3 separate regions of the Homo sapiens genome follow, and all the other regions are linked to region 1. Evidence: fine-mapped expression QTL. A gene starts in region 1. Each other region holds a variant in brackets. All regions are shown on one strand. Distances are between the middles of the regions.

Region 1 (11,184 bases):
ATTAAATGAGCATACAATTTTTTTTTCAGATATGAATACTATCATTACCTTGAATTCAACCTTGTTTAGTTCGTTACATGCCCAGAAGCAAACCCAATAGCTTTTTTTTTTTTTTTTTTTTTTTTTTTTGAGACAGAGTCCCACTCTGTTGCCAAGGCTGGAGTGCAATGGTGCGATCTCGGCTCACTGCAACCTCTGCCTCCCGGGTTCAAGCGATTCTCGTACCTTAGCCTCCCGAGTAGCTGGGATTACAGGTGCACGCCATCACGCCTGGCTAATTTTTTGTATTTTTAGTAGAGACGGGGTGTCACCATGTTGCCCATGCTGTTCACAAACCCCTAACCTCAGGTGATCTGCCCACCTCAGCCTCCCAGAGTGCTGGAATTACAGGTTACAGGTGTGAGACACTGCGCCCAGCCTCAATAGGAATTTTATTCTAGCTAAAATCTAAAAATCAGTTATGATCTCCATCCAAAAATCCATCCATCCTTTTTGCAGCTGTATTCACCAACATTAGCTCCAGCTCCAAGTTTGTTTCCAACATCCAATACAGCTCCAATCTCGTGCTCCACTGATGAATCTTAGTGGTGATAGTAATAACTACCTTTAATAAGAATTTACTGGAGGCTAAGACTTTAACTGCATCAGCATCTTTATCTCTTCCTTCTCTTCCTTTCCACAGTCCCATGAGGTAAGGAGAGAGGCATCTTCCTCTATAGATGAGGAAATGGAAACTGAAGAGTAGCGGATAACTTCACTTTTCAAAATGACTGTAATTAGTAAATAATAGAACTGAGATTTGAACCCAGACCTATCTCTAAAAGCTTTTAACCACTTCAAATGCTGCCTTCCTGAGTCGAATCTGACCTGTTTTCTTCCAGACTTCTAGTCCCTCTCATCCTCCTCTCCACCCCCAACTCTACTCTTAACCTCTACATCCTTCCCAATTCTGCCCTGATCCCTTCCCTAACCCCGGCCATCCCTCCCATTCCCTGGACTCACGGTTCATGCGGATTTGCTGGCCGAGCTCAATCAGTTCCATCTCCGTGGGCATGTAACCCATCGTCCTCATGAGATTCCCCAGATCCTTACAAGAGATGAACCCATCTCGGTCCTTATCGAACTCAAGAAATGCTTCCCGCAGCTCTGAAAGTTAAGAGAGAACTTTGGGGGAACTTGAAGCAGTCAGTGGGGAAGAGTGGCATCTCTTGAAGCTATCAATGAGGCTCCAACTAGAGACTCCTTAAAGGAGCGTACATTAGAAACAAAACAAAACAAAACAAAAAAACCAAGGCCGGATGTGGTGGCTCATGGCTGTAATCCCAGCACTTTGGGAGGTCGAGGTGGGTGGATCACCTGAGGTGAGGAGTTTGAGGCCAGACTGACCAACATGGCAGAACCCCATCTCTACTAAATACAAAAAAATTAGCTGGGCATGGTGGCTCATGCCTTTGATCCCAGCTACTAGGGAGGCTGCCTCAGCCAAGGCAGAAGAATCGCTTGAACCTGGGAGGCGGAGGTAGCAGTGAGAGGAGATCGTGCCATTGCACTCCAGCCTGGCAACAAGAGCAAAACTCTGTCTCAAAAAAGAAAAAAAAATTCAAAAAGGAGTGATGTATGAAATGTGTTAGCAAAAGAGGCATCATTCCTGAGACCACTAAATGAGAGCACTGGCGTCCTTCAGATTCCTGGATGAAGTTATGGGGAACCTCAAAGTCACCAAGAGAGAAACTCATTTGTTTTCACTCCTGAGTCTTGGAGATACTTGAGGATGGATATGCCTTCGAAATACTTTGGGAAGTCCTTCAACTGCCACGAGAAAGAGTTCTACAAAATTACAGTTGAGTGGGAAGAGAGAGGGATTGTAAAAATTCCATGTAATGGAATTTATACGGAAATGCACAAAGGGACTGAGGGCAGGTCAGGTGGGTGGATGGCAACGTGGAAGCAACTGGGGAAGACGGTGTTACCTTCAATCTCATCTTGTCCCAGTGGTCTTTCCTGGAAAGGAATGCAGATGAGAGGGAATTTGGAGAGAGGGTCACCCATTCTCCAAAGGGTCTCCTTGTTCTCCCAAGCTCCTCCCCACGCTCTCGTGGTTCTCTTTCCATTCTCTCTCTCCTCCTCCATCCCTCCCATTCCTTTTCCCATCTCCTGACTCCTGTTCCACAGTTCTTGGCTCCCCACCCCCCTCTCGATGTCTCTCTCCCACCCACGAATCCCAATCTCCCTTTTTCTCCCTTTCTGAGACAAACACCCATCACATTGTGTCAAAGGGGGTCTTAAACACTGGGGAGTCCAATCTCCAGATGAAAAAAGTGAGACTTCACAACCACAGCTAACTCATTCAGAGTGGTGACTCTGTGCCAGGCAGTTTCCACAATCATTTCATTTAAACCTCAGTACTGCTCTGTGATGCAGATCTACATCTCGTTTCCATCTTACCCATGAGAAAGCTGAGGAACAGAGAGGTTAAGGAACCTGCACAAGGTCACACAGCTCACAAGCAGCAGATCCCCTCCCAAGGGAGGAAGGCATTCACCTGCTCCCTGGAGGTCATGGGGCAAGTCAGACACAGTATTGGGATTTGAATTCAGGGCTCCTGACTCCCAAGTCAGAATTCTTCACACTAGCCCCCATTCACTCCTTTCTCACCTGCCTCCAATCTTCCTGCCAAAGGTTAGAATCTCTGTGCATGGAAACAGCATTCAATGGCTTTCAGGCAGGAGGGTCAGTGCCAGCATGACCAGTTCCTAAACACTCTGAGAATGTCCAGTTATTGCTGCCCCACCTACTCCTGCACATACCTGAAGGGTTGGGCTTACATATACATGGCATGTTAACAAGGAAATTCTACTGACCTCTGGTCTCTTTAGCCTTCCCATCTCCCTTTATCCCTGGAGCCTTTCCCTCAGCTTCTCTTTCATCTGATCCCCTCCTTGCGGTCCCTTATCACCCTTTTTTTCATTCTCTCTCTCTTTTTTTTTTTTGAGACACAGTCTCGCTCTGTCACCCAAGCTGGAGTGCAGTGGCACGAACTCGGCTCACTGCAACCTCTGCCTCCCGGGTTCAAGCGATTCTCCTGCCTCAGCCTCCCGAGTAGCTGGGATTACAGGCGCCTGCCACTGCACCCGGCTAATTTTTGTATTTCTAATAGAGACAGGGTTTCACCATCTTGGCCAGGCTGGTCTTGACCTCCTGACCTCGTGATCCACCTGCTTTGGCCTCCCAAAGGGCTGGGATCACAGGCGTGAGCCACTGCCTGGCCTTTTTTATTCTCTTTTTTTGGTGATCTTAAAGCCTAACAATGAAAAGTATGCCCACATATCTGGACAAGTTGGTATATATGGAAAAATAAAAAAATTTTAAAAAGCATGCCCACAGGAATCAAGCAAACCCGACCCTGCCACTTACTTTTTTTTAACGAGACAAAGTCTCACTTTGTTGCCCAGGCTGGAGTGCAGTGGCATAATCAGGGCTCACTGCAGCCTCCACTTCCTGGGCTCAAGCGATCCTCCTGCCTCAGCCACCTGAGTAGCTGGGACTGCAGATGCATGCCACCATGCTGAGCTATTTTTTTGTATTTTTAGTAGAGATGGGGTCTTGTGTTTCCCAGGCTGGTCTCAAACTCCTGGACATAAGTGATCCTCCCGCCTCTGCCTCCCAAGATGCTGCGATTCAGGCATGAGCCACTATACTTGGCCGACCCTGCCACTTACTAACTGTGTAAGCTTAAGGCAAATGACTTCATGACTCAGAGCTTCACTTTCCTCACCTGTAAAATGGGAATGAAAGTCACTGACCTCATGAGTTGTTCTGAGGTGTAAATAACATCAGGTGTGCAAATCCCTTTGCACAGGGCTGGGCACAGAACAATGACTTAATAAGTGGCAGCTATTGTTATTAACGTCATCATTATCATCACCACCACCACCATCATCACCACCATTATCACAATGAGCATCCATAGAAAAGAATGATGGTAATCTCAACAATGACATCATCCCACTTTCCCTTTTCATTTTTCTTCCTTTTCTCTCCTTCTCTTTGCTCCTGACTTTTGATTTTACCCCCACCCATTTATCTCACTGGCTTACATGACCCCACCAGGGTCCTTGGAATTTCTTATACCTTCTCAGCTCCTGCTCTATCCACCTGTTCCCCTGGTTCTGTGGCACCATCATGTCCCCTTCTTTGTCCCACACCCCTGCTCCCTTTGCCCCGCCCACCGCCCTTCCCCCTCACTCCCCACCTCACCCGCTGTTTCTCAGCAATGCCTTTCCTCAAGAAGATGCAGGCGGGGCCCATGGGGAACTGCATGGAGGGGTGGGGTGGAGCTCGCAGGGCACCAGTCTCAAGATGGCCCCTCCTCCCTGCTCCCTGTCGGAGCTCAGCCTCCTTATCTTCTCCAGCACTCCTTTGCCACCTCTTCCTGCCTCTCTTGGCTTCTCCTTCGGTCCCGGTGTCTTAGAGCTGTGACAGCTGGGCTGGAAATCTCTACCCGGGTTGGGGAGGGACCAGAGCTGTCCCTGCCTCCCCATCTGGCTTGAATGATATGGGTGGGGAAATGCAGAGTCAGGTTCTGTGACGCCTTTATCCCCAGAGTGGAATTGGAAAGTGCATTTTATAAATGGGGATTAGAGGCTGGATGTGGTGCTCATGTCTGTAGTCCCAGCGCTTTGGGAGGCTGAGGTGGGAGGATTGCTTGAGCCCAGGAGTTTGAGACCAGCTGAGCAACATACGGAGAGGCTGTCTTTACAAAAAATAAAAAAATTAGCCGTGCATGGTGGCACACACCTGTAGTCCCAGCTGCTCCAAAGGCAGAGATGGGAGGATTGCTTGAGCCCAGGAGTTCAAGGCTGCAGTGAGCTATGATTGTACCATTGCACTCCAGGCTGCAGTGAACTACGATTGCACCATTGTACTCCAGCCTGGCTGACATAGTGAGACCCTGTCTCGAAAAAAAGAAAAAAAAAGAAAAAAAAGAAAAGAAAATGGAGGATTAGAGCAGACGGCATCATTTATTCAATGTTCCAACAAGCATGTGAAGGGTCACTCCAACACTGGCCTCTGGGCAGTGAGATGGAGAGCTCAGCACCCCTGGCCTCAGGGAGTTTTCCTGGGTGAGTCGGGAATGTGTGAGAGTGAGCAGGATGCAAGCATGGACTTCAGGAAGTGGGCGTACACGGTGACTAAGAGCATGGCATTTGCTCTTCCTCTGTTCATCTCTTTCCTTCTGTCTTTCCTGAATGATTTAGAGGGAAAAAGCAAGGTGGGGGTGTCAGGGAGGGTGTGAAGTTATGGTGGTGTCAAAGCCCAAAGGGGTTTTGCGACTCCACACTAGGTAGGGTTAGGGGAGGAGGGGGCTGGGGGCCATCTGGCGTGGAGAGCCAGCATTCCAGTGGGGTAGTGGGGTGAGGAGAAGTCCACATAGAGGGGCAGCATGACCCAGGGTGTTGGGGCTGGAGATGGTGGGGATAAATCCACAGATGGGCAGCTTGGTGTGCAGTGTTGGAACATGAGCTGAGTGGGGCGGGGGCATTTATATGCAGGCATTGTCTGGGGTGGAGGTTTGCACTGTAAGGCAATTAGGAAGGAGGCCACATAGAGGGGATCTGGCATGGGTTGTCATAACCCAAGCAGAGAGAGAAATGTCCACTCATGGGAATAGCATGGTGTATGGTGTTGAAGCCAGACTAGGCTGGGAAAGACATCCCCACAGGGGTGAAATGGCAAAGGAAAAGGGAAATTGGCTACACACAGTGAGTAAGGGGAATGGGGGCCAGGTCTCCTACTGTTGGAAAAGGGAGTTACTAAGACAGAAAGGAGGAAAGTCGAATGAGCCCTGTGGTGTTGGACTATAACTGGAGGCGTTGGTATGTCCTCATGGATCTCAATTATACATAGAGAGATAAAAATAAACACATAGTTTCAGTGTGTATAGGAACATTTGTACACATATTCTCTAGCTCTCTCCACTAAGAGAACATAGAAACAATGATGGCCCATATGAATGAGCACCACTAGCATCCAAATCTTGACTTCTATATACCATTCTCCACCAAATGGAACCAGAGTGCCTAGGAAATTTGGCTGATTCCATGTCTAGAGCAAAAAAAGAACAAGATGAGCCTACAAACGTCCTATGCTTAAAGCAAGAAATTGCTCAAAGTGTTGTGAGAACATGTGGAAAGAACACAGGAGTCTGCTTGAAGAAGCTCCATTGGCCATACTGGGCAGTTTGAGAGTCAAAATAAATAATGATAGTAACAAATTATACAGGACCACAGAAGAAACCAGGAGTCCATACTCAGATAAATAAAAAGCTAAGTGAGAAGTTTGATATTTACAGAGCTCAAAATACCTCCCTACAAAATACCAATTTCAAAGGAGTTACGTTATAGTGGAGAAACGTGGCAAACACCATCTTAGTCAATGAAAGTGGACATCATCAGTAATGTGACAAGTTGGAATTTCACACCACCTGACAGGATGTCACGAGAACAGCATCGCTTCTGTAAGATTCCTGAATCTCATCATAATCAGACGTCAGACGAACCCACATGGAGGGATGGTTTACAAAATAACTGGCCTGTAAGCTTCAAAAATGTCAAGGTCATGAAAATCAAGGAAAGATTGAGGAACCGTTCGAGATTGGAGGAGACTAAGAAGACATGGCCGAGGCTGGGCGCGATGGCTCACACCTGTAATCCCAGCAATTTGGGAGGCTGAGGTGGGCAGATCACCTGAGGTCAGGAGTTCGAGACCAGCCTAACCAACGTGGAGAAACCCCGTCTCTACTAAAAATACAAAAAAATTAGCCCGGCATGGTGGCACATGCCTGTAATCCCTGCTACTCGGGAGGCTGAGGCAGCAGAATCGCTTAAACCCAGGAGGCGGAGGTTGCAGTGAGCCCAAGATCGTGCCATTGCACTCCAGCCTGGGCAACAAGAGCAAAACTCTGTCCAAAAAAAAAAAAAAAAAAAAAAAAAAGCTACGACTGAATGCAACACAGAATTCTGAACAGGATCCTTCTGCTATCAAGGTCTTCTTTCGGATGACTGGTGGTTTGCTGGCAATAGTTTGGCGGCCCTTGGTCAGTAGAGCCTCACCCCAATCCCTGCTTCCATGTTCACATGGTTTCCTCTCTGTATACATGCCTGTCTCTGTCTTTAAATCCCCCCCCCTTTTTTAAAAGAATTTTATTTCAAATCTGGGATACATGTGCTGAACATGCAGGTTTATTACATAGGTATACATGTGCCATGCTGGTTTGCTGCACCAATCAACCCGTCACCTAGGTATTAAGCCCTGCATGCATTAGGTATTTGTCATAATGCTCTCCCTCCCCTAAATCCCCCCTTTTCTTTCCTTTTTTTTTTTTTTTTTTTTTTTTTTTTGAGACAGAGTCTTCACTCTGTCACCAGGCTGGAGTGCAGTGGCATGATTTGGCTCACTGCAAGCTCCACCTCCTGGGTTCAAGCGGTTCTCCTGCCTCAGCCTCCCGAGTAGCTGGGACTATAGGTGTGTGCCACCATGCCCAGCTAATTTTTGTATTTTTAGTAGAGATGAGGTTTCACCATGTTGGTCAGGATGGTATCAATCTCTTGACTTTGTGATCCACCTGCCTCGGCCTCCCAAAGTGCTGGGAGTACAGGCGTGAGCCACTGCGCCCGGCGAAATCTCTCCTTTTCATAAGGACACTAGTCATTGTGGATTAGGGTCCACACGAGTGACCTCATCTTCACTTGATGACATTGGTAAAGACCTTATTTCCATGCAAGGTCACATTCACAGGCACTGGGGGTTACAATGGCCACATCTTTTGGTGGGGGTGGGACACACAATTCATCCCATAACAGTCCTGCTTTAATTCTGGAAAGCCTGTATGAATAATAATTGCTCTGGAACTCCGTCGGTGCCAGACTAACTATTCTAAGGTCTTGAGACTCATGAACTCATTTAAGCCTTTCTAGGATACAGGCTCCGTGATGGTCTATTCTACAGACGATGGAACTGGGGCATGGAGGCGAAGGCTCTTGCCCATGTTCTCATGGTAAGCAGATAACAGAAGTAAGATCCAAACCCAGCTGTGGAACCACCATGCTTAATTGCTGAGATATAGATGGAAGAAGATGGAAAGGAAAGGGGGAAGGGAAGAAAGGAACAAGTAAAGGGTACACAGAGGGTGAAAAGGGCCGCAGCAGGGGTGGTGGCAGACCAAGACACACACACACAGCTAATCCATCAGTCAATCAGCAAGCATTTATTGAGCACTTGTTGTATTCTCAGAGCTCCACTTGGCTGTGGAGAGATAGCCCATGATTTAAGCCCAAGTTCTTACTTCTACAGAGCTAACTTGTGCAGAGCTACTGGCTAGAAGTGCAGTCATAAAGGAGCAGTGGAAGGCATTGGTCTGAACTATCACATTCATTCTGGCCATCTGGACATTGGACATGATGCTTCTGATTGTCAGACACTCATGCTCCAGCTCCAGGATCTCCCGAGGGACCTGCAGGACAAATTTCACCACCTTCAGCTCCTTGGACGCCTTCTTCTGAATGACGCTATCAAAATCACAGTCTAGCTGGTCACTGGTGATTGGCCCTGTTAGGACAGCCAAGGTGAACTCAAGGCCATGAAGCGTGTGGCTGAAGGGAGTGAAGAACAGGAAGGCCAGGTGGACATCAGGGCCCTAGTAGACCAACAGGCCCACAGTGCCCTGGAAGCTGAGGCTCATCTATGCCAAGCAGCAACTTCGGGCACTATCCTTCGGGTAGTAGAGCCTGGGGAGAAAGGAAAGTTAGAAGTTACCACTGTGCTTTGTAGGCAGTGTTGCACACTGGATAAGATTAGAAGACCTGGAAGCCTCTACAGGTCATACATGACTTAGGAGAAAGACATTCATCCATTCTTTCATTCATTGAGAAGACCTGGAGCTCCACCACCTCCTCCTGTGGAGCTCTTGTGATCTACTTTTACCACGTAAACGTTTATTTATCCAACACTACGCTTATTAAGCATGTATCAGGAGCTGGGCTAGGAGGTAACTCTTTGGCCTACATCGAATGTCATGATACCTGCCAGAATTCACAAGATCTGATCTCTGTCCATCTCTCCAATCACATTTCATTCCGTGCTTCCCCTACCCTGATCCAGCAATAACAGCTTTCCTTCTGTTCCTCGAATAGACTGATATAGTTTGGAAATTCGTCCCCTCCAAATCTCATGTTGAAATGTGATCCCCAGTGTTGGAGGTGGGGCCCAGAGGGAGATGTTTGGATCATGGGAGTGGATCCTTCATGAATGGGTTGGTGCCTTCCCTGCGGTAATGAGTGAGTTCTTGCTCTATTAGTTCACTTGAGATCTGGTTGTTAAAAGGAAACTGGTGCTTTCCTCCCTTCTCTCTCTCTTGCTCTCTCTCACCATGTAACACGCCAGCCCCCCTTCCCCTTCCACCAGGATTGGATGCTCTCTGAAGCCTTCACCAGAAGTAGATACAGGCGCCATGCTTCTTGCACAGCCTACAGAACCATGAGCCAAATAAACCTCTTTCCTTTATAAATTACCGAGCCTCAGATATGCCTTTATATTAGTACAGAATGTTATAGACATAGGTAAGACACAGATCAAGGTCTTTCCCACTCCAGACACTTTGCATTTACTTTTCCTTTGCACAGAATTCTGTTCCCCAAGACTTCCTCATGGCCACCCCTTCTCAGTATTCAGCCCCAGGTGAAAGGTCTCTCCCTCAGGATGCCTTCCCAGACCCCCAGACCCTTTCCTAAAAAGCTTTCACTTTACTCCTCAGCACACCGCACGTTCGGTCGTCTCCATGGCACTTACTCTCCATGGCCATCCTGTTGACTTCTTTGTTTACCTGTTTATGTCATGTTGCCCCCCGGGAGGAGGTACATTCTACAAGAGCAAGAGCCTCATCTGACCTGTATGCAGCCACGGCTGCAGGACCTGGGCGGACTGGATCTAGCAGGCATCCAGGAAATGTTTGTGGAATCAATGAATGAAAGAATGAACACCATGGTGAGCAAAGTGATGTGGTTCCTGACCCCACACTGCTGCACACCTTATTATGAGGAGAGAGAGTCAACAAATAAGCATAAATAAGCCCTGAGTTCTACAGGTGAGAAGGTGGGGAGTGGACAGGCACAGAGGAAAATCATGTGTAGACACAGGGAGGCACCATCTGCAAGCCAAGGAGAGAGGTCTCAGGAGAAACCACCCCTGTTCACACCTTGATCTTGGACTTCCAGCCTCCAGAACTGTGAGACAATAAGTGTCGGTTGTTTAAGCCACCTGATCTGTGGTACTTTTTTCTTTGAGACGGAATCTCCCTCTGTCAGCAGGCTGGAGTGCAGTGGCATGATCTGGGCTCACTGCAACCTCCACCTTCTGGGTTCAAGCGATTCTCCTGCCTCAGCCTCCCAAGTAACTGGGACTACAAGTGTGCACTACCATGCCCATCTAAGTTTTGTATTTTTAGTAGAAATGGGGCTTCACCATGTTGGCCAGGTTGGTCTCGAACTCCTGACCTCATGATCTGCCCACCTCGGCCTCCCAAAGTGCTGGGATTACAGGTGTGAACCACCATGCCCGGCCTCTGTGGTACTTTTTAATGGCAGCCCCAGCAAACTAATATACAACCCCTCATTAGAAGACAGATGAGCAGCAAATAACCGCCCTGCCCCATGCCAGGCAGGGCTTTTGGGGAAACTCTCTGGGGAACATAGACTGGTCCAGAGGCCCAGAATGGCTTTCTCTTCCCTCTACCTTGCGACCCTGAGGTCATTGACCCAAACTGCTCCTCAGGGTGCTAATTATCTCACCTAGGGACCAACCGCACAGGAGCTAGGGTGGGCCTTTGAAAAGGTGACTCAGATAAAGCTACTTCCCTGCTCAAAACTTAACAGCAGCTTCCCACCATATTCAGAATAATATTCCAACTCTTCCCCTGGCTTCTGTCATCTGGTTGTGTCTGTGTCTTTGTGGCAGGTTGAATAATGTCTCCTAATGATGTCCCTATCCTAATCCCTAGAGCCTGTGAGTATGTGACTTTTTTTTTTTTTTTTTTTGAGACAGGGTCTCGCTCTGTCATCGAAGCTGGAGTGCAGTGGTGTGATCTGGGCTCACTGCAACCTCTGCTCCCCAGGGTTCAGCAATCCTCCT
Region 2 (9,911 bases), 58 kb after region 1:
GCAATCCTCCCGCCTCAGCCACCCAAAGTGCTTGGATAGGCTAGGTGCTGTGGCTCATACCCATAATCCCAGCACTTTGGGAGGCTGAGGTGGAAGGATCACTTGAGCCCAGGATTTGGAGACCACCCCGAGCAAAAAAGCGAAACCCTATCTCTAAAAAAAAAAAAAAAAAAAAAAAAAAAAAAAAAAAAAAATTTGTCAGGCCCAGTGGTGCGTGCCTGTAGTCCCAGCTACTTGGGAGGCTGAGCTGAGAGGATTGCTTGAGCCCAGGAGGTCAAGGCTGCAGTGAGCTGTGATTGCACCACTGCACTCCAGCCTGGACGACAGAGTGAAACCCTGTCTCAAGAATAAACAAAACAAACAAAAAACAACAAAAACCCGATGTGTTAGGATAGGCTGGATGCAGTGGCTCATACACGTAATCCCAGCACTTCGGGAGGCTGAGATAGGAGGATCACTTGAACCCAGTAGTTGGAGGATTGCTTGAGCTCAGGAGTTTGAGACCAGCCTGGGCAATATAGCAAGATCCCTGTCTCTACAAAAAAAAAAATAATTAAAAATTAGCCAGGCACGATGGTGCATGCCTGTTGCCCCAGCTTACTCAAAAGGCTGAGGCAAGAGGATTGCTTGAGCCCAGGAGGTCGAAGCTGCAGTGAGCCATGATCTCGCCACTGCACTCCAGCCTGGGTGACAGAGCAAGACCCTGTCTCAAAAATAAAATGAAATAAAATAAAATAGTGAATTCAAGACATCAAATGGCCAAGCAGAGATGGAGAGGAAAGTTGTCTTGGGTCTGACACTTTCCCTATTTCTGCCTTATTCCATCATAAGTCCTCATTGTTCTTCTTGCCCTGGATGTCTGTGTATCTTTCTAGTAAATCATATCACTTTATTTGTTGCATAAACGAATCAGAGTCAATTTCTGTCACTTGCAACCACAGTAATCCTGATATACTTTAGTTTTGAGGCATCAACCGAAGTGCCCAGATTTTGATGACTTGAAAATCCTGAAGGACTTAAAAGGTGGTGCTGGTCAGCATCTTTGGTAACCCCACACCCTGAGACCCCTTGCTCCTACCCCCACCCCAGGTCCCCAGCTGGGAATGACTTACTTCTCTGGTTTGCTTAGAGATAACCATGTAGGCCCAGAAGTCGGTCAGAGAGTAATTCTCAGACCTCGCTGCTTGGATGGTTTTCTGTAGGCTCTTAGCCAAGTCCCACTCCTGTCGGGTAAATCGATGTTTCAGGTCAGCCTCGAGAGCTTCCATGTCACCATCATTGGTGTAGAGAGAAGATATTGCCCTGGAGGACAGAGGAAGAGAGTGAGTTGGGCATTTTAAGTGTGGACGATGAAGACTGGGGAAAGATGTGTGCAAGGAGGTCCTTCACAGGAACACCTGCCTCATGGAGAGGGCGACACACAGAGGAAACGGAAAATTTCCATTAAATAAATACAACTGCAGAACGATCAAGTTCGAAGGAGGACTCAAAATCATCTGGGACAATCCTTCCATTTCACAGGCAGGAAAATGAGAGCACGATGGGAGAAAGGCCTCATCAGAGTCAAATGTTTTTTGCAGCCAGCACTTATTAAAAGGTTTATATGTGACAGCAACAAACTGTCTTTAGTCTTTTATACCTATTAACTCACATAATCCTAGAAAATCAATGAACGGGGCCAGGTGTGGTGGTTCATGCATGTAATCCCAGCACTTTGGGAGGACGAGGCGGGAGGATTGCCTGAGGTCAGGAGTTCGAGACCAGCCTGGCCAACATGGTGAAACCCCGTCTCCACTAAAAATACAGAAAAATTAGCCAGGCGTGGTGGCATGCGTGGTGGTGGGTACCTCTAGTGCCGGATACTCAGGAAACCCTGTCTCTACTAAAAACACAAAAATTAGCCAGGCATGGTGGCACACGCCTGTGGTCCCAGCTGCTC[A/G]GGAGGCTGAAGCAGAGGAATCGCTTGAACCCGGGAGGTGGAGGTTGCAGTGAGCTGAGATTGTGCCACTGCACTCCAGCCTGGGCGACAGAGCGTGACTCCATCTAAAAAAAAAAAAAAAAAAAAAAAAAGCTGGGCGTGGTGGCTTACGCCTGTGATCCTAGCACTTTGGGAGGCCAAGGTGTGCGGATCACGAGGTCAGGAGATCGAGACCATCCTGGCTAACATGGTGAAACCCCGTCTCTACTAAAAATACAAAAAATTAGCTGGGTGTGGTTGCAGACCCAGCTACTATAGTCCTAGCTACTCGAGAGGCTGAGGCAGGAGAATGGCGTGAACCCGGGAGGCTGAGCTTGCAGTGAGCCGAGATCGCGCCACTGCACTCCAGCCTGGGCAACAGAGCAAGACTCTATCTCAAAAAGAAAAAAAAAAAGAAAAAAAAGACTTTATATTCATTTGTTCACTCAATAAATATATATTATATATATTAATTTATAAAGAAAAGAGGTTTATTTAGCTCACAGTTCTGCAGGCTGTACAAGAAGCATGGTGCAAAAAGCTTCTACTCATGGCAGAAGGCAAGGGAGCTGGTGTGTCACATAGAGTCTATATATATATATATATATATATTTTTTTTTTTTTTTTTGAGACAGGTCTTGCTCTGTTGCCCAGACTAGAGTGCAGTGGCATGATCTTGGCTCACTGCAGTCTCAAACCCCCAGGCTCAAATGATCCTCCCACCTCAGCCTCCCAAGTAGCTGGGACCACTACCCACCAGGTGCATCACCATGCCCTGCTCATTTTTAAATTTATTTTCTGTAGAGATGGAGTCTCACTATGTTGCCCACGCTGGTCTCAAACTTGTGGCCTGAAGCAATCCTCCCACCTCAGCTTCCCAAAATGCTGGGATTATAGGTGTGAGCCACCGTGCCCGGGCTCAATAAAAATTTTTGATGTTCTTAATGCTGCTTATCGGGTGCTATCTACCCTCACACCATCCAATGTATTAAACATACATCATAGCTCTTGAGCCCCTGAAGTGTGGCTAGCATGATTTAAAATATTTATTTCATTTTAATTAGCTTAAATTTAAACACTGGTACTCCATTCAGTTATTGGGAAACTCTGAAGTATGTTTGGAACAAGCTGGGTATGAAAAGTTCTTTCCTTTAATATCTTTTTTTTTTTTTTTTTGAGATGGAGTTTCACTCTTGTCACCCAGGCTGAAGTACAGTGGTTCGAGCTCGGCTCACTGCAACCTCTGCCTCCCGGATTCAAGTGATTCTCCTTCCTCAGCCTCCCAAGTAGCTGGGATTACAGGTGCGTGCCACCACACCCAGCTAATTTTTGTATTTTTAGTAGAGACAGGGTTTCACCGTGTTGGCCAGGCTGGTCTCAAACTCCTGACCTCAGGTGATCCACCTGCCTCGGCCTCTTGAAGTGCTGGGATTACAGGTGTGAGCCACTGCCCCGGGCCTCCTTTAACATCTAATGAGACTTCTGCATCCAACTTGGAATGCGCTCAGTATAAAACGCCCAGCAGCTTTCAAAGACCTAGTCTGACAAAAGGAATGTCAAATATCTCATTAACAATTTTTTTCTTAACGATGTGTCAAAATGCTAATGTTTTGGATATATTGGGTTAAAGAAAATGGATCATTTCACTGTTTCTTTTTACCTTCTTGAAGAGGCTACTAGAAAATTTAAAATGGGCCGGACATGGTGGCTTACACCTGTAATTCCAGCACTTTGGGAAGCCAGGGCAGGCAGATCACCTGAGGTCAGAAGTTTGAGACCAGCCTGGCCAACACGGGGAAACTCCGTCTCTACTAAAAATACAAAAATTAGCTGGGCATGGTGGCACGCGTCTGTAATCCCAGCTAACTGGGAGGCTGAGGCAGGAGAATCACTTGAACCTGGGAAGTAGAGGTTGCAATGAGCCAAGATCGCGCCACTGCACTCCAGCCTGGGCGACAAGAGCAAGACTGTGTCTCCAGAAGAAAAAAAGAAAAGAAAAGAAAGAAAGAAAATTTAAAATGATAGAATAGATGTGGCTCATGTTACATAGCTCTACTTGATAGCTCAGGTTGGGACGATTTGCATGTGTTTCATCATTTAATTCTCAAACAGCCCTGTGAGATCAGCACAGTTTGTTGCTGTCACATGTAAACCTTTAATAAATGCTGGCTGCAAAAAACATTTGACTCTGATGAGGCCTTTCTCCCATCGTGCTCTCATTTTCCTGCCTGTGAAATGGAAGGACTGTCCCAGATGATTTTGAGTGCTCCTTTGAACTTGACCGTTCTGCAGTTATATTTATTTCATGTAAATTTTCCATTTCCTCTGTGTGTCGCCCTCTCCATGAGGCAGGCGTTCCTGTGAAGGACCTCCTCACACACATCCTTTCCCAGTCTTCATCGTCCACACTTACAATGCTCAACAGCGGAGGAAACCAAGGCACAAAGAAGTATGTCTGGGCTCGTAACAGCCCACAAAGGACAGCTCCAGGAACTAACCCAAAGCTGTTGAAATATAAGGCTTTCGTTGTTGTTGTTTGTAGAGATGGGGTCTTGCTATGTTGCCCAGGCTGGTCTTGAACTCCTGGGCTCAAGAGATCCTCCCACCTCGACCTCCCAAAGTACTGGGATTACAGGTGTGAGTCCCTGTGTCCAGCCAGGCCTGCCTTTTTAACCACAGCAGTCTCGGAAAGATTCCAGAAGAAATCATGGGGTTCCTATCTCAATAGCGCCCCCTGGAGTTCTGCAATGTGCAGTACAGCTAAACCCCCACGCCATGTCACTCAACATGTTAGATGAGCCTTGGAGGAATAGAGGGGTCCGGTGTGACTCTGCAGGACCTTTCCCACTCCCAAGCTCTGCAGCTCTGCTCTTCATGCTGTCGCCTCCAGGAACCTCATCCTCCACATCCAGCTCAGAACCCAGCTCCAGATCAAACTTTGAGCACAGAAATGAAAACAAATCAGGCCAGCCAGGCTCAACATTCATGCCTCTGCCCTGCCTATCTCACACTCGAGCCTCTGCTGCTCTGCCTAGCCTTACCTCCTGCTCTGAAAATGTGCCAAGATCGATTAGTCATGTCTGCCCTGGGCTTGGCAACAAACATGCAGACATGAGTGTTTCATACCTGCCATCTGGGGCCTCCTGAATGAGACAGTCCTACACGGATTAATGCAATACTTTATCATAGAGGCTGATAAGTTAAAAGGGCTGTATTCTATCCACCTGCAGTGTGAAAAGTGCACCTGAACATGTAAATCCTCCTTTAATGTCAGAAGGTAGTATTATTATGCTTTGTCCATGGCTTTGTGTAGCAAAGAAAGATACTTGGTGTTTTCCCCTGCTTCCTGGTGCAGAGTTCCTAAAACCCTTGGAATTTTCTTTTTTAGAAAAAAAAAATTTTTTTTTTGAGACAGGGTCTCTCTGTCACCCAGGCTGGTGTGCAGTGGTGTGATTGTAGCTCAATGCAGCCTCAGCCTCCCAGGCTAAAGCAATCCTCCTGCCTCAACTTCCTGAGTAGCTGGGACCATAGGCATGCACCACCACGCCTGGCTAATTTTTTCACTTTTTGTAGAGATGGGGTCTTGCTATGTTGCCCCGCCTGGGTCTCAAACTCCTAGACTCAAGCGATCTTCCTGCCTCAGCCTCCCAAAGTTCTGGGATTACAGGCGTGAGCCACCACACCTGGCCCATCTTTTGTAATACACCAGCAATTGTAAGTAAAGTGTGTTCCTGAGTTCTGTGAGCTATTCCAGTAAATTATTGAACATGAGGCGGAAGCTGTGGGAAACCCCAAACTATTGCCAGTCGGTCAGAAGCACCAGCGGCTAGGTAATTGCAACTCGTGTCTGAAGTGGGAGCAGTTTTTTGGGACTGAGCCCCTTTCACCTGTGGAATCTGATGTGAACTCCAGGTAGCCAGCGTCAGAATTGCTCAGAATTGTAGGACACCCAGCTAGTACCAGAGAGCTCGAGAAGCAGCGTTGGAAAAAACCACACACATTTGGTGTCAGGAGGAAAAAAATAATCCCATTTATGTGTCAGAAAGCAATCTGAAACATGAGTGATGCTTACCAAGTGGATCCAGAGACCCCTGCGAGGTACGTGACGGCATCCAACAGGCCCTGTTCTTTCATCTCACTCAGGACCCCAAGGCAGGCAATGTGAGCCCGCAGTCCTCCGCCTGAGCCCAGCACAGCAACAACTGGGGCCTAGGCATTGGGGAGAAAATCGATCAGAGGTTTAGAGCCTGAGGATGGAGGTGGGAACAAGAAGAAGGGTACCTGGGGCCGGGCACCGTGGCTCACGCCTGTAATCCCAGCACATTGGGAGGCCGAGGCAGGTGGATCACTTGAGGTCAGGAGTTCAAGACCAACCTGGTCAATGTGGTAAAACCCCATCTCTACTAAAAATACAAAAATTAGCTGGGTGTGGTGGCACACACCTGTAATCCCAGCTGCTCAGCAGGCTGATGCAGGGGAATAGCTTGAACCTGGGAGGTGGAGGTTGCAGTGAGCCAAGATCATGCCACTGCATTCCAGCCTGGGTGACAGAGCGAGACGTTGTCTCAAAAAAAAAAAAAAAAAAAAAAGAAAGAAAAGAAAAGAAAAAGAAAGGAGGAGGAGGAGAAGGAGGAGACCTAGGATCTCCCTTAGGCAGGGGCAATGCCTGTCCCATAGAAGTTCATATCCTTCTATTTCTATCCCATAGAAGTTCATATCCTTCGGTCCAGCTCTCCCTGGCTGAGTTGGGCCCTGGACACTGGGCACAGAGGGGGCGATTCTGGGATCTCTGGGGCCACCCTCCTCCCCTCACTTACCTCATCAGCCTCAATCCTTAGCTTCTTCAGAGCTTTCAGCACATGAAGTCTTCGTCTCTCCACGGCCGCCTTTTCTTCTTTCTGGAGCCCAGGAATTATGGAAACTTCAGAGCTTCCCAGGAGAAAACACAAAGAAGTCCAGAAAATTCACAGGGAAAAGGGATAAAACACAGAATTTGACCTAGAACTGGGCTGTCCAAGCAGGTAGCCACCAGCCCACGGGTACATGGTTTCCTTTTGGGGTGAGGAAAATATTCTGAAACTAGATAGAGGTGATGGTTGTACAACACTGTGAATGCATTGAATGCCAGTCAATTATTCACTTTTCAAAATGGTTAATTTTGGGGCCAGACGCGGTGGCTCACACCTGTAATCCCAGCACTTTGGGAGGGTGAGGTGGGTGGATCACTTGAGCCCAGGAGTTCAAGACCAGCCTGGCCAACATGGTGACATACCTCCCTCCCTCCCTCCCTCCCTCCCCTTCCCTCCCCTCCCTCCCTCCCTCCCTTCCTTCCATCCTTCCTTCCTTCCTCCTTCCTTCCTTCCCTCCTTCTTTCCCTCCCTCCCTCCCTCCCTCCCTCCCTCCCTCCCTCCCTCCCTCCCTCCCTCCCTCCCTTCTTTCTTTCTTTCTTTCTTTCTTTCTTTCTTTCTTTCTTTCTTTCTCTTTCTCTCTCTCTTTTTTGAGACAGAGTCTCGCTCTGTTGCCCAGGCTGGAGTGCAGTGGCGCAATCTCAGTTCACTGCAACCTCCACCTCCCCGGTTCAACAATAAGACAGGGTCTTGCTCTGTTGCCCACCACCAGTGCGGTGGTGCAATCATAGCTTACTGCAGCCTTGAACACCGGGACTCAAGTGATCCTCATGTCTCAGCCTCCTAAGTAGCTTGGACTACAGGTGTGTACCACTATGCTTGGCTAATTTTTAAAAATATTTTCTTTTATTGTAGAGATAGGGTTTCACCATGTTGCCCAGGCTAGTCTCGAACTCTGGGGCTCAAGAGATCTTCTTGCCTCGGCCACCAAAAGTGCTGGGGTTACAGGCATGGGCCACCATGCCCAACCTTCAGCTCTTTCCATCTATCTCCACCAAGCGAGAGGAACTGTCACAGCCCTCACCTCTTGACACTCACTATGCATTCCATTACACAAATGCTCTGCTTCCCCATAGTGGTCAGCTCTAAGAGGACTTACCTTCCCATGGTGCACTGCGGTCAGAAAATTCTCAGTCCTCCTGCCAAAGAAATGGCTCTTCTTAGTCCTGTGCCCACTGTTGGGCTTAGCAAAGACAGTGGGGGAGGGCTGGGACTGTCACGGGCTCATGGGTTCTCCTTGTCCACTGCCCAGACAAAACCAATGCGAACAGCAGGTGTTGCAGCAAAGAGAGAGAGTTTAATAATCTCAGGGGCGGCCAAGCGAGGAGAATGGGAGAAATATTTCAAGCGCGTCTCTCTGAAAATTTGGAGGCTAGGGTTTTTCCTCGCTCTTTCTCTTTCTCTGCCTCTGTCTCTGTCTCTGTCTGTCTCTCTCTCTTTAGATGAAGTTTCCCTCTTGTTGACCAGGCTGGAGTGCATTGGCATGATCTCGGCTCACTGCATCCTCCGCCTCCCGGGTTCAAGCGATTCTCCTGCCTCAGCCTCCTGAGTATCTGGGATTACAGGCATGCACCACCATGCCCGGCTAATTTTTGTATTTTTAGTAGAGATGGGGTTTCTCCATGTTGGCCAGGCTGGGCTTGAACTCCCGACCTCAGGTGATCCACCCGCCTTGGCCTCCCAAAGTGCTGGGATTACAGGCACGAGCCACCGCGTCCGACCTGAGACTAGGGTTTTTTAAGGAAACTTTGGTGGGCAAGGGGCTGAGGGAACAATTGATCGGCTATGGATGAAATCACAGGTGTGTCCAAAACTATCTTTGTATAGCTGAGTCAGTTCCTGGGAGCGGGTCTCAGGACCAGGTGGTAGCTCTTGGTCTGCCAAAATGCTCACTCTGAAAACTATCTCAAAGACAATTTCTTTTTTTTAAAACAAAAACAAAACGAAACATTATTGCCAGGAGCAGTGGCTCATGCCTGTAATCCCAGCACTTTGGGAGGCCGAGGCAGTCAGATCACTTGAGGTCAAGAGTGACCAGAAGACAAGTGTGAGCCCTCTGTCATGCCCGAATAGGGCCACTAGAGGGCCCCTTGGTCTTGGGGTAACGCCAGCGTCTGGGAAGATGCCCATTGCCTAGCGGACCTTGGTCTAGCGGTTGCGTCAGTGCCTAGAGACCAGGAAAGGGAGTCTCCCTTTCCCCGGGGGAGTTAGGGAAGACTCTGCTCCACCGCCTCCTGTGGAGGGCCTGAGTGATGTCAGGCCCGCCCGCAGTTATCCAGAGGCCTGACCATCTCCCTGTGATGCTGTGCTTCAGTGGTCACACTCCTGTTTCACTTTCCTGTTCCACTCTGTATACCTGGCTGCACCCTCTAGATAGCAGTAGCAGAATTAGTGAAAGTATTAAAATATTAAAGTCTTTGATCTTTCTGAAAAGAACATAAAAGAAATAATGACATAAGCTATCCTCTCTCTCTACGCCTTGGCTACCTAACATAGAAGGGCTCCCTGTCCAGTGGACACGTGACTCACATGACCTTATCAATCATTGGAGATGACTCACACTCCTTACTCTGCCCCTTATTATCCAATAAATAACAGCGCAGCCAGGCATTTGGGGCCACTATCGGTCTCTGCGTCTTGGTGGTAGTGGTCCCCCAGGCCCAGCTGTCTTTTCTTCTATCTCTTTGTCTTGTGTTTTTATTTCTACGATCTCTCGTCTCCGCACATGGGGAGAAAGACCCACAGACCCTGCAGGGCTGGTCCCTACAGTGGCGCAATCATAGCTCACTGCAGCCTCCAACTCTTGGGCTCAAGCAATCCTCCTGCCTTGGCCTCCTGGGTTGCTGGGACTACAGGCATGCACCACCACGTCTGGCAAAGTTTTAATTTTTTTGTAGAGATTGAGGTCTCACTATGTTGCCCAGGCTGGTCTCATTCTCCCGGGCTCATGCAATCCTCCTGCCTCAGCCTCCCAAGAAGTGGGGATTACAGGTGTTAGCTACCACACCCCACTAAAAAGCTGAGTTCTGTGTTTCACGACAGTGATA
Region 3 (10,068 bases), 73 kb after region 1:
ACAGCAAAGTAAGCCTGGCACAGACTTGCACGGCAGAGAGCAAAGCCTCGCAGATAGAGAAGGAAGGGGAGAGAGGGCGGGTGGGAGACAAGGGCAGAGGAACCTGATGAGAGAGAAGGGAAGGAGGGAGGGCAGATGTGAGAGGCAGAAACAGAGTGTGAGGGGCAGGGGACAGCTGGGAGCCCTGTGTCCCCCCTGCGGGAGTATCAGGACACCCTGACACTCTCATGCCCGGAAGCTCCTGTTCCACGCTGGGCCCCGGGGTTAGAGGCCTCCTGCTCTGGAAGACCCGAGCCTGGGCCCCGCTCCGCGTGCAGCCGTTTTCCCCAAGCCAGCCCCGTGGTGCCCAGGGCTGGGTGGGTGTTCCAGGCATCCTGCTTGCCTTGTCTGACCATTTCCCGATGGTTTTCCTCTAACATATCATCCCATGTGGGGTGGCTGCAATAATAACAGCCCCCATAGATATCCAGGTCTTAATCGCTGAAACCTTTGATGTGACCTATTTTTTTTTTTTTTTTGAGATGGAGTCTCGCTCTGTCGCCCAGGCTGGAATGCAGTGGCACGATCTCGGGTCACTGCAACCTGTCTCCCAGATTCAAGTGATCCTCCTGCCTCACCCCACTAGTAGCTGGGATTACAGGCACGCGCCACCATGCCCAGCTAATTTTTGTATTTTTAGTAGAGACGGGGTTTTGCCATGTTGGCCAGGCTGGTCTCGAACTCCTGACCTCAGGTGATCCACCTGCCTCAGCCTCCCAAAGTGCTGGGATTACATGCGTGAGCCACCGCGCCTGGCCCTTTTACATTTTTATTAATTTTATTAATAAAATTAGAGGAGATGAAGTCTGGCTGTGTTGGACAAGCTAGTCTTGAACTCCTGGCTTCAAGTGATCCTCCCACCTCAGCCTCCCCAAGTCCTCCCCAAGGCGTGAGCCACTGTGCCTGGCCTCTGTGAATGTGTGATCTTATGTGACTAAAGGGACTTTGGGATTGAGTTAGGATCCTGAAATGAGATTATCCTGGATCATCCAGGGGGCCCTAAATGTAACCACTTGAGTACTTGGAAGAGAGAAACAGAGATCTGATGGAGGAGAGGACGTGACCTGATGACCTCAGGAGAGAGATTTGCAGGTGCGATGCTGCTGGCTTTGAGGACGGAGGAAGAAGCCATGAGCCTAGGAACCAGGTGGCCTCTGGAAGCTGGAAAAAGGACACAGTTTCTCTCCTGGAGCTCCCAGAAGGAACCGGCCCTGCCACCACTTTGATGTTAGCCCAGTAAAACTGATTTTGAACTTCTGACCTCCGAAACTGTTTAGGGAATACATCTGTGTTATTTTAAGACACTGCATTTGTCTTCCTTAACAGGGCTCACGATGGTGCCTCCCTGTGGGATGGCTGGAAGGTTAAACAAGTTAAAAAATATATGTATGTAAAGATTTTAGACTACTGCTGTCCAATACAATTAAATAAAATATTTGGTATGGCTGGGTGTGGTGGCTCACGCCTGTAATCCCAGCACTTAGGGGGGCTGAGGAGGGTGGATCGCTTGAGGCCAAGAGTTCAAGATCAGCCTGGCCAACATGGCGAAACCCCATCTCTACTAAAAATACAAAAATTAGCCAGGCGTGGTGTCACATTCCTGTAATCCCAGCTACATGGGAGGCTGAGGCAAGAGAATCACTTGAACCCGGAAGGTGGAGGTTGCAGTGAGCTGAGATCTCATCATCGCACTCCAGCCTGGGCAACAGAGCGAGACTCTGTCTCAAAACAAAATCAAAACAAAACAAAACAAAACAAATTCGCATCCTCTGTCATGCTGGCCACCTGTCAAGGGCTCGGGCATTGCAGGTGGCCAGTGGCGGTCACACTGCACAGAGCAGATAGAGAAGACGCCCACCACTGCAGGCAGTTCCATGGCTGGCACTGGCTCTGGCAGTTCCTAGGCCATGGCTACATGGCTACATGCTATGCAGGTGACACCCATGACAGCTTTGCCCCCAGAGCCCAGCACAGACCCTGTCACAAAGTAGCTATCCAATAATTATTTATTGAAAGAAATGACGGGATGAATCCCAGACTCCGGAGTAAGCCACCCCCTCACACACACACCCCTCCCCTGACTCTCAAAATCCACAGCCTGCCACAGCAGATTTGCTAAAAAGCAAAGGCAATAATAACCCTGGGGTCCGTCCAACTCATGCCCTGTACCCAGGCCCTAGGAGGGCGAGGGCTTAGTAGGTATCTTCAGGGTCAGAGCCTGAGTCCTCGCCTTGTTGGTTCTGAATCTGACTTTGCTTCCGGTACAAACAGGCCACCTGCGGAGAGAGGGTGGGACGGGGTGGTCAGAAGCTCCCTGGCTGCTCCCACCTCCACAAGGTTCCAGAGAGGCCACCACGCTAAAAAGCTGGTAGGGCCAAGCAGCTGGGCGGCCCACCCCTGCTTCCCAGGACCTCACCTGAGCACTGGTGGTGGCCTGCTCCGGCTGCTTGTCTTCACGGACTCGAATAAACCGAGGGAAGCGAAGGGAGATGCCCTTGTCACTATCCACCTGCGGAAGCGGGATGGAGACTCCTGCGGTCCAGCCCCAGCGACCCCCTGCTCAGTCTCCTCCCTCCTCCACTCTGGACTGTTTCCTGATCCACATGACGGGGCCGAACGATGGGTTGTCATAAGGATTAAACAAGTTGACAAAGTGCTTGGAACAGTACCCGGGCACAGTAAGTGCTCAAGAAATGCTGCCTGTTGGCCGGGTGCGGTGGCTCACCCCTGTAATCCCAGCACTTTGGGAGGCCGAGGCGGGTGGATCACGAGGTCAGGAGATGGAGACTATCCTGGCTAACACGGTGAAACCCCGCCTCTACTAAAAATACAAAAAGAAATTAGCCAGGTGTGGTGGCGGGCGCCTGTAGTCCCAGCTACTCAGGAAGCTGAGGCAGGAGAATGGCGTGAATCCGGGAGGTGGGGAGCTTGCAGTGAGCTGAGATTGCGCCACTGTACTCCAGCCTGGGTGACAGAGCGAGACTCCAACTCAAAAAAAAAAAAAAAAAAATGCCACCTGCTACAGCCGTTACGATAATGACGGTAATTCGGGCTGAGAGGCTGAACTACGGCGCCAGGGTATGGGTTCTAGAATCTGACTGTGGGATTCCAATCCCAGCTCCCAACTCTCAGGAGCCGCGTGATGCAGGGGCAGTTACTCAGGCTCTCTAGGGCTCTACATCCTCACCGTAAAATGGAGATGTTTGTGTCACTACGTCTTACGGATTTTGAGAGGATTAAATGAGTGTCTATGAGTGACACGCTGATGACCACACAGTGCCCACTGCACAGCAAGGGCTGGATACACACCGGCTCCTGTGCCTTGTTACTAAGGGTCCCTGGCTGTCTAACGTGCAGCATGGTAAAACATTTTTAAAAATTAGATCAAAAATGTAAGTTCTTGGCTGGGCATGGTGGCCCACACCTGTAATCCCAGCACTTTGGGAGGCCGAGGTGGGCGGATTGAGGCCAGGTGTTTGTGACCAGCCTAGTCAACATGGTGAAACCCCGTCTCTACAGGCACGGGTCACCATACCCAGCTAATTTTTCTATTTTTTGGTAGAGGTGGGGTTTCACCGTGTTGGTCAGGCTGGTCTTGAACTCCTGACCTCAAGTGATCTGCCTGCCTCGGCCTCCCAAAGTGCTGGGATTACAGGCATGAGCCACTGTGCTTGCCCTGGGAATTCTTTTATTTAAGAAAAGAATTTTCTTTTCTTTTTTTGAGACAGAGTCTTGCTTTGTCACCCAGGATGGAGTACAGTGGTGTGATCTCGGCTCACTGCAACCTCCGCCTCCCAGGTTCAAGCGATTCTCCTGCCTCAGCCTCCTGGGTAGCTGGGACTACAGGCACCCGCCATCACACATGGCTAATTTTTGTATTTTTGGTAGAGATGGGGTTTCACCATGTTGGCCAGGCTGGCCTTGAACTCCTGACCTCAAGTGATCTGCCTGCCTCGGTCTCCCAAAGTGCTGGGATTACAGGCACGAGCCCCCATGCCCGGCCCATTTTTAAAGAAAAAATGTTTTGATCTTTTTATCTGACACTCAAATAAAATGCAAGCTCATCTTCCTGATCCTTACCTGGAAGAGCAGATGTGAGCCAAGGTCCCCTCCCTACTCTGCTCTCTGTGTGCCCGCCCAGAATCCCACACAGGGCCACGGCCAGGTCCTCTGCCACTCACCAGGCCCCGCGCAGCAGGGTAGATGGGAGAGAGGGAGAGGTCAGCGCACTTCACCTCCCACACAGCGCTGGGGTCCAGCCAGTGGTCGGGAATCACAGCGCCATCTATCCGCACGTAAGGGCGTGGGCTGGGCAGCACCAGCGCCTGCAGTGAGCAGAGGAAGAGAGGAACAGAGGGTCTGGAATCTCAAAGTCAAGGCCAAGTGTTGGAGGGCTGGGGAGAGGGAGGAAGGGAAAAAAACAGGCACCCCCTTGAAGTAAACAGAAATAGGAAGTGAAATAAGGGAAAAGAAACAAGACACCCCCTTGAAGTAAACAGAAATAGAAAGAGAAACAGAAAGTGAAAGAAGGGAAAAGAAACAAGACCCCCTTGAAGTAAAAAGTTGAGAAAGGTGGGAGTTGGGAGGAATGGGAGATGGAAAGAAATGAAAGGCCCTGGGGGCTGAGGCAGGACATTAAAGACAAAAAGAGGCAGAGAAAGGGCCAGAGACCTGGAGGAAGGAGACAGAGACACAGTGGGACAGGGACAGAGATGTAGAGAGAGAGGGCAATGGAGAGAGAGAACCAAAGAGTGGGACAGAGATGGTGTCAGGGTCCGTGTGTCCCCACCCACATCTTGTCTTGAATCATAGCTCCCAAAATCCCCATGTGTCGTGGAGGGACCTGGTGGGAGGTAACTGAACGATGGGGGCAGGTTTTTCCCGTGCTGTTCTCGTGATAGTGAGGAAGTCTCACGAGATCTGACGGCTTTATAAAGGGCAGTTCCCCTGCACACGCTCTCTTGCCTGGCGCCATGTAAGATGTGCCTTTGCTCCTCTTTCGCCTTCTGCCATGACTGTGAGGCCTCCCCAGCCGTGTGGAACTGTGAGTCCAGGAAACCTCTCTTTATAAATGATCCTTTTTTTTTTTTTTTTTTTTTTGAGACAGAGTCTCACTCTGTTTCCCAGGCTGGAGTGCAATGGCATGATTTCAGCTCACTGCAACCTCTGCATCCTGGGTTCAAGCAATTCTTCTGCCTCAGCCTCCCAAGTAGCTGGGACCACAGGCATGCGCCACCACGCCCGGCAAGTCTTGGGTTATTTCTTCATAGCAGTATGAGTATGAAAATAAACTAATACAGATCCAATATGTAGGACAGACACTCATGCCTGAAATGCCTGTGACCATGACAACATTCATTCACATTGATCAGGGCTCACAGGCACTTCACAAGGAGCAGCTATGGCACCTGCTGTGTCCTTTGGCTAACCCCTGGTGTGAATGAGGCACAGGGCTTGGGGAGGTGAGGCTGCTTGAGCAGGGTCACCAGCTAGTAGCCGGCAGTGCTGAGACATGAACCTGGAGATGCTGGACTCCAAAGCCAGCTCCACTGCCTGCTGCCCTCCTGCCCACACCTGGAGCCCCAAGATGGTGGAAGCCAAGAGCCCTGCATGGAAGGACTGTGCTGTCAGGGGCAGGGGGGAGAGGGGTGGAGGCTGAGGCGCAGCCGCCATGGCTCACCTTGAGGCTCTGGTGATGCTCCTCCAGCTCCTCATCACTGAAGCCAGTTCCAAGCTGCAGGGAGGAAGCGGGAGGTCAGAGGCTCAGCCAGCCACAGGCCCAGCACTTGCTCCTGCCATCTAAAGCTGTGTACACTCATGGCCCCCACCCC[A/G]CTCTGGTCTACGCAGTATCCACAGAAAACCAGGGAAGTAGGGAGCTGGGGGTGCGGAGCATCCATCCAGAGACTCCCGGGTGGGAATGTTCTCCCAGCAGGCCTGCCGTGAACCACTCCCTGTCTTCTGCTTTATGGAGAAACTCTTGCTGCTTCCACTGTCTCCCTGGCCCCAGGAAGTCACTCCCTTATGCTCACCCACATCCTCACTGCCCAGTAACTGGCTGTCCTCACTTCCAGTCTTTTTTTTTTTTTTTTTTTTTTTTTTTGAGACAGGGTGTAGCTCTGTTATCCAGGCTGGAGTGCAGTGGTGCAATCTTGGCTCACTGCAACCTCCACCTCCTGGGCTCAAGCAATCCTCCTGCCTCAGCCTCCCAAGTAGCTGGGACCACAGGCATGCACCACCACGCCTGGCTAATTTTTTAAAAAAGTTTTTGTAGAGGTGGGGTCTCACTATGTTGCCCAGGCTGGTCCCGAACTCCTGGGCTCAAGTGATCCTCCCACCTCAGCCTCCCAAAGTGCTGGGATTACAGGCGTGAGTGGCCATGCCCAGCCCATCTCCAATGTTAACACTGCCAAGAGCTTCTTTCACCTACCAAAATAGGAAAGGCTAAAAATTAGCAGTAATGCTGGATGCTGGCAGATACGCAGCAAGTGGGCAATAATCACCAATATAAACGTCACCTGGAAAGCCCCTTTTGCATTGAGAGTCTTAAGGATTCTTTTTGCCTTTTGTCCTGACAATAGCTCATTTAAAAATCTATTCTAAATAATGCAAAATGGTGACAATGTAGATTGGTGGCCAAAACATTTGTGATTTATAAAAGTCACTTCTGTCACTGATCGTTTAGGTTAACGGACACTAAGTAATCACATTACCCATCAGAACAAAGCCGGCAACAACTTCCCCACACAGCCACGGGGAGCTGGTTCAGGACACAGCACTATGTGCTATGGGGCACAGCACTTGAAAACTCTTGTGCGGGCATTCAGGTCCTGTTGCCATATTGCTTAAGGGCATATACAACACTGAAAACAAAGTACTTCCAGGGTAAAAAGGCAGAAAAGAAAATTACTCATAGAGAAGGATCACAACTTTGCAAAAATGTAAATAAAACATTCCCTCAAATGTCACTACTGCGTGTCTCTGGGTGGTACGATTCTAGGTGATATTTTGTTCTGTTTCTGTGGCAAAAGACCCAAATTTGTTGGAGAGGGGAATATAGGAAATACGTAAGAAAATCTAGTCCAAAATGTGCACAGCTTTAAGAAAAACTTTAACTTGAAAAAAAGTAAATCACTTTACATTTCCCAGAATTCCTTGCAGCTAGGGGTGAGCCATGGAGCAAAGTGATGAGCAACAGAACTTGAGCAGAAGGTGTTCACTGGCTGAGGCTGACTCAGGGTCCAACCCCCTTTGCTCTTCCCTGGTGCGTGGAGCAGGCATGGCCATGAGGGCTGGAACTCCTGCAGCCACATTGTGATGATGAGGCCAGAGGCACATGGCAGAAAAAAAAAATGTGGGGACAAAAAAAAATGTGGGGAGAGGAGGAACCTGAATCCCTAATGGCATCAGACTGCCCCCTCCACACTTCTCATTTCATAACAAAAAAATTCTTTTCTTATGTGAGCCACCACTATTTGTAGCTAATCTCAATCTCTCACTGACACACATTCCTGACATCTTTCTATCCCAGCCTGTTTTTCTATATGAAGCAAGAGTTGCTCATAGAACCAGAAAAAGTAAATAAAAACTGGGGAGAACGGATCCTTCACAGGGGGATGTGAGCACCCCTCGGTCTGGGTTGTGCAATAGGAAATACCCCCGGGAGTCTAATCTCCTTCCCTCCTGCTTCTGCCATCAGCCCCAGTTCCCCAGGACCTTGCATATGGCCTGCAGCTCCTCACTGTCCTCGTCGTAGGAGGCCAGCAGGAAGCCCCCGTACCGGCCGGCCCGCTTCCCCCGGCCCAGGTAGGCGCCGATCACCACCAGGTCCAGGGTGTCACCCACGCCATCAAGGTAGTCCTTCTTCAGCTGGGAGAAGGGGAGGCAAGAGATGAGAAGGGGGAGCGCCCAAGGCGGGGCCCTCACTGCTGGGGAGGGGCTCCTCAGTGGACTGAGGAGGGACTAGAAGTAAGTCTGAAGGGAACTTCCAGAAGGAACCCCAAGGATGGCCCCTGGGAAGAGACTGGACATGGGAAGGGTTTCTAGGTTTAAATAAGAACAAATGGGGCCGGGCACGGTGGCTCATGCCTGTAATCCCAGCATTTTGGGAGGCCGAGGCGGGTGGATCACCTGAGGTCGGGAGTTCGAGACCAGTCTGACCAACATGGAGAAACCCCGTCTCTATTAAAAATACAAAATTAGCCGGGCGTGGTGGCGTGTGCCTGTAATCCCAGCTACTTGGGAGGCTGAGGCAGGGGAATCGCTTGAACCCGGGAGGCGGAGGTTGCAGTGAGCCAAGATCGTGCCATTGCACTCCAGCCTGGGCAATGAGAGTGAAACTCCGTCTTAAAATAAATAAATAAATAAATAAGAACAAATGGGAAACGCAGGCGGGATCGATGGGACCTCAGGAGTCAGCCTTGCCGCCGTCTTTCCCTCAGGACAGAGACGTGGCCAACTCACTCTGGCCACTCCTCCAAAGGGAGAGCATTTTCCCATTCGTTCAGAAACGTTCACTAAGTGCTAACCATGTGCCAGGCAGAAGCTCAGCCCTGGGGGCACAACAGTGCTATTTCCTGAGACAGGAAAGGTCTGTGCTGGAGGGAAACCAGCCACAGACAGACATAAGTACACAGGAAGAGCTAGTCAGCAGGCCTGGCCGGCTCAGTGCCACAATGCCTCCCGCTCCAGTCCCCTTGTCCACCCCTCACTGCCCCTCTCCACTCAAACATCCATCAACTCTTACTGATGACAGGCTCCTGCTCGCTGGCCCTCAACACACCCGTCCTCCACTCGAGGGGAAACCCCAGGAGCTTCGCACAATGACAACCTGTGACTCCCGGCACGGAACCCCCACTGACTTCCTGAAACCTTCAAGAGGAAGATCCAGTTTTATCTCACAGTGGCCCCAGGTGCTGCCTCATCTGGGGCCTGCTCCCCACTCTGAGCTCACCTCCCGCCTCGCCTGCCCTTGCTCCCTGCACACGCAGAGGCTGCTCCTCCCTCAGGGTCTCTGCACCGGGGGTTTTCCTCCCTAGTGCTCTGTCCCTCACTTTGGGAAAGACTCTTCCTGATCATCCGGGGCACTCCCAGCCCCGCCTTGCTGGCCCGGAGCTGACTTGCTTTTCTTCATGGCGCCCACTCCTGCCTGACTTTCTCTTATTCATGTCCTGGCTTAATTCCTGCCCAAGAGCCTGGCCCGACACGGGCGGCAGGCTCAGGAGAGAGACACCTCATCACGCTGCACCTCGTGGGATGTGCGGTGCTTGGGCTGGGGCTGTTCTCCATCAGAACTCGTGAGCAAGGGCTCGCAGCAGGGAGAAGGTCTGAACTCAGTTGCAGCAGGGGGCTGGGGTGGGATTGTGAAAAGGGGCCCTGAGCTCAGACAGGGTACACAGTGGAGGCTCGAAATCCACTGCCTAGCTGGGACAGACCTCCAGACCCGGGGTGGAGAAGGCCCAGTTGGGGGTCGAGAATCACCTTGAGCCAGTTGTGCGATCTCTTGGCGATCTCGTAGGTGGCATCAACATCCAGGGTCTTCACCATCAGCCCCTCGCAGGAGTCTGAGGGAGACACAGAAGCGTGGTCCTTGGGAAGCCCTGGCTCACAAGCGCCGGAGCAGGCAGGATTCTGGTCAAACGGTCCAGGACTGGGGACAGGCTGGGAGGCCGGGGTCAGCGCAAGCTGCAGACCTCAGGAGAGAAAAGTGAGCACCCTCACCTTTCACTGACTGCTCCAGGAACTCGGCGATCTGCTCGATGTCCTTGGTGTCCAGGGAGGTGGCGAAGACAAACTCGCCCTCTGTCTCCACAAAGTTCTCCCGGAGCAGCTGCCGGCGCCGGGAAAGGGGCTCACGTACCAGGGACTGCAGGGCCGGCAGGGAGAAGAGAGATGAGACATCTTTGTGAGAATAAAGACAATAAGCCCTAAATGTGAGGCGAACAGGACATGTGCGGGTCACAACTAGTGACAGGGTTCGTGGAAAGCCTTGAGAGGGAAGAACCCTGATGTCAGAAGGATTCTGAGAGCTTA

Evidence for each region.
Region 2: its variant is fine-mapped to the expression of CABP5 in whole blood (INTERVAL, PIP 0.99).
Region 3: its variant is fine-mapped to the expression of CABP5 in whole blood (TOPMed, PIP above 0.99). The same link has a PIP of 0.9 or more in blood mononuclear cells.

What each region holds. Positions count from the first base shown.
Region 1 is chr19:48,039,603-48,050,786 of GRCh38, forward strand. CABP5 (calcium binding protein 5) reads right to left here and starts at 4,477. Exons shown (of 6, transcript NM_019855.5): 1 at 4,258-4,477; 2 at 1,971-2,001; 3 at 1,003-1,146. The coding sequence starts at 4,320. It overlaps PLA2G4C (phospholipase A2 group IVC), which reads right to left. Exons shown (of 17, transcript NM_003706.3): 17 at 8,244-8,786. The coding sequence ends at 8,741.
Region 2 is chr19:48,098,559-48,108,469 of GRCh38, forward strand. PLA2G4C (phospholipase A2 group IVC) reads right to left here. Exons shown (of 17, transcript NM_003706.3): 2 at 7,964-8,003; 3 at 6,775-6,886; 4 at 6,030-6,166; 5 at 1,113-1,302. The coding sequence starts at 7,971. Among named protein-coding and RNA genes, the nearest start is that of PLA2G4C, 7.3 kb to the right of the region's middle. The variant A/G (reference allele first, on the strand shown) is at 1,940.
Region 3 is chr19:48,113,418-48,123,485 of GRCh38, forward strand. It overlaps LIG1 (DNA ligase 1), which reads right to left. Exons shown (of 28, transcript NM_000234.3): 22 at 9,757-9,901; 23 at 9,517-9,599; 24 at 7,753-7,905; 25 at 5,720-5,773; 26 at 4,221-4,364; 27 at 2,456-2,548; 28 at 2,028-2,315. The coding sequence ends at 2,232. Among named protein-coding and RNA genes, the nearest start is that of PLA2G4C, 7.6 kb to the left of the region's middle. RefSeq lists a silencer at 8,550-8,739. The variant A/G (reference allele first, on the strand shown) is at 5,871.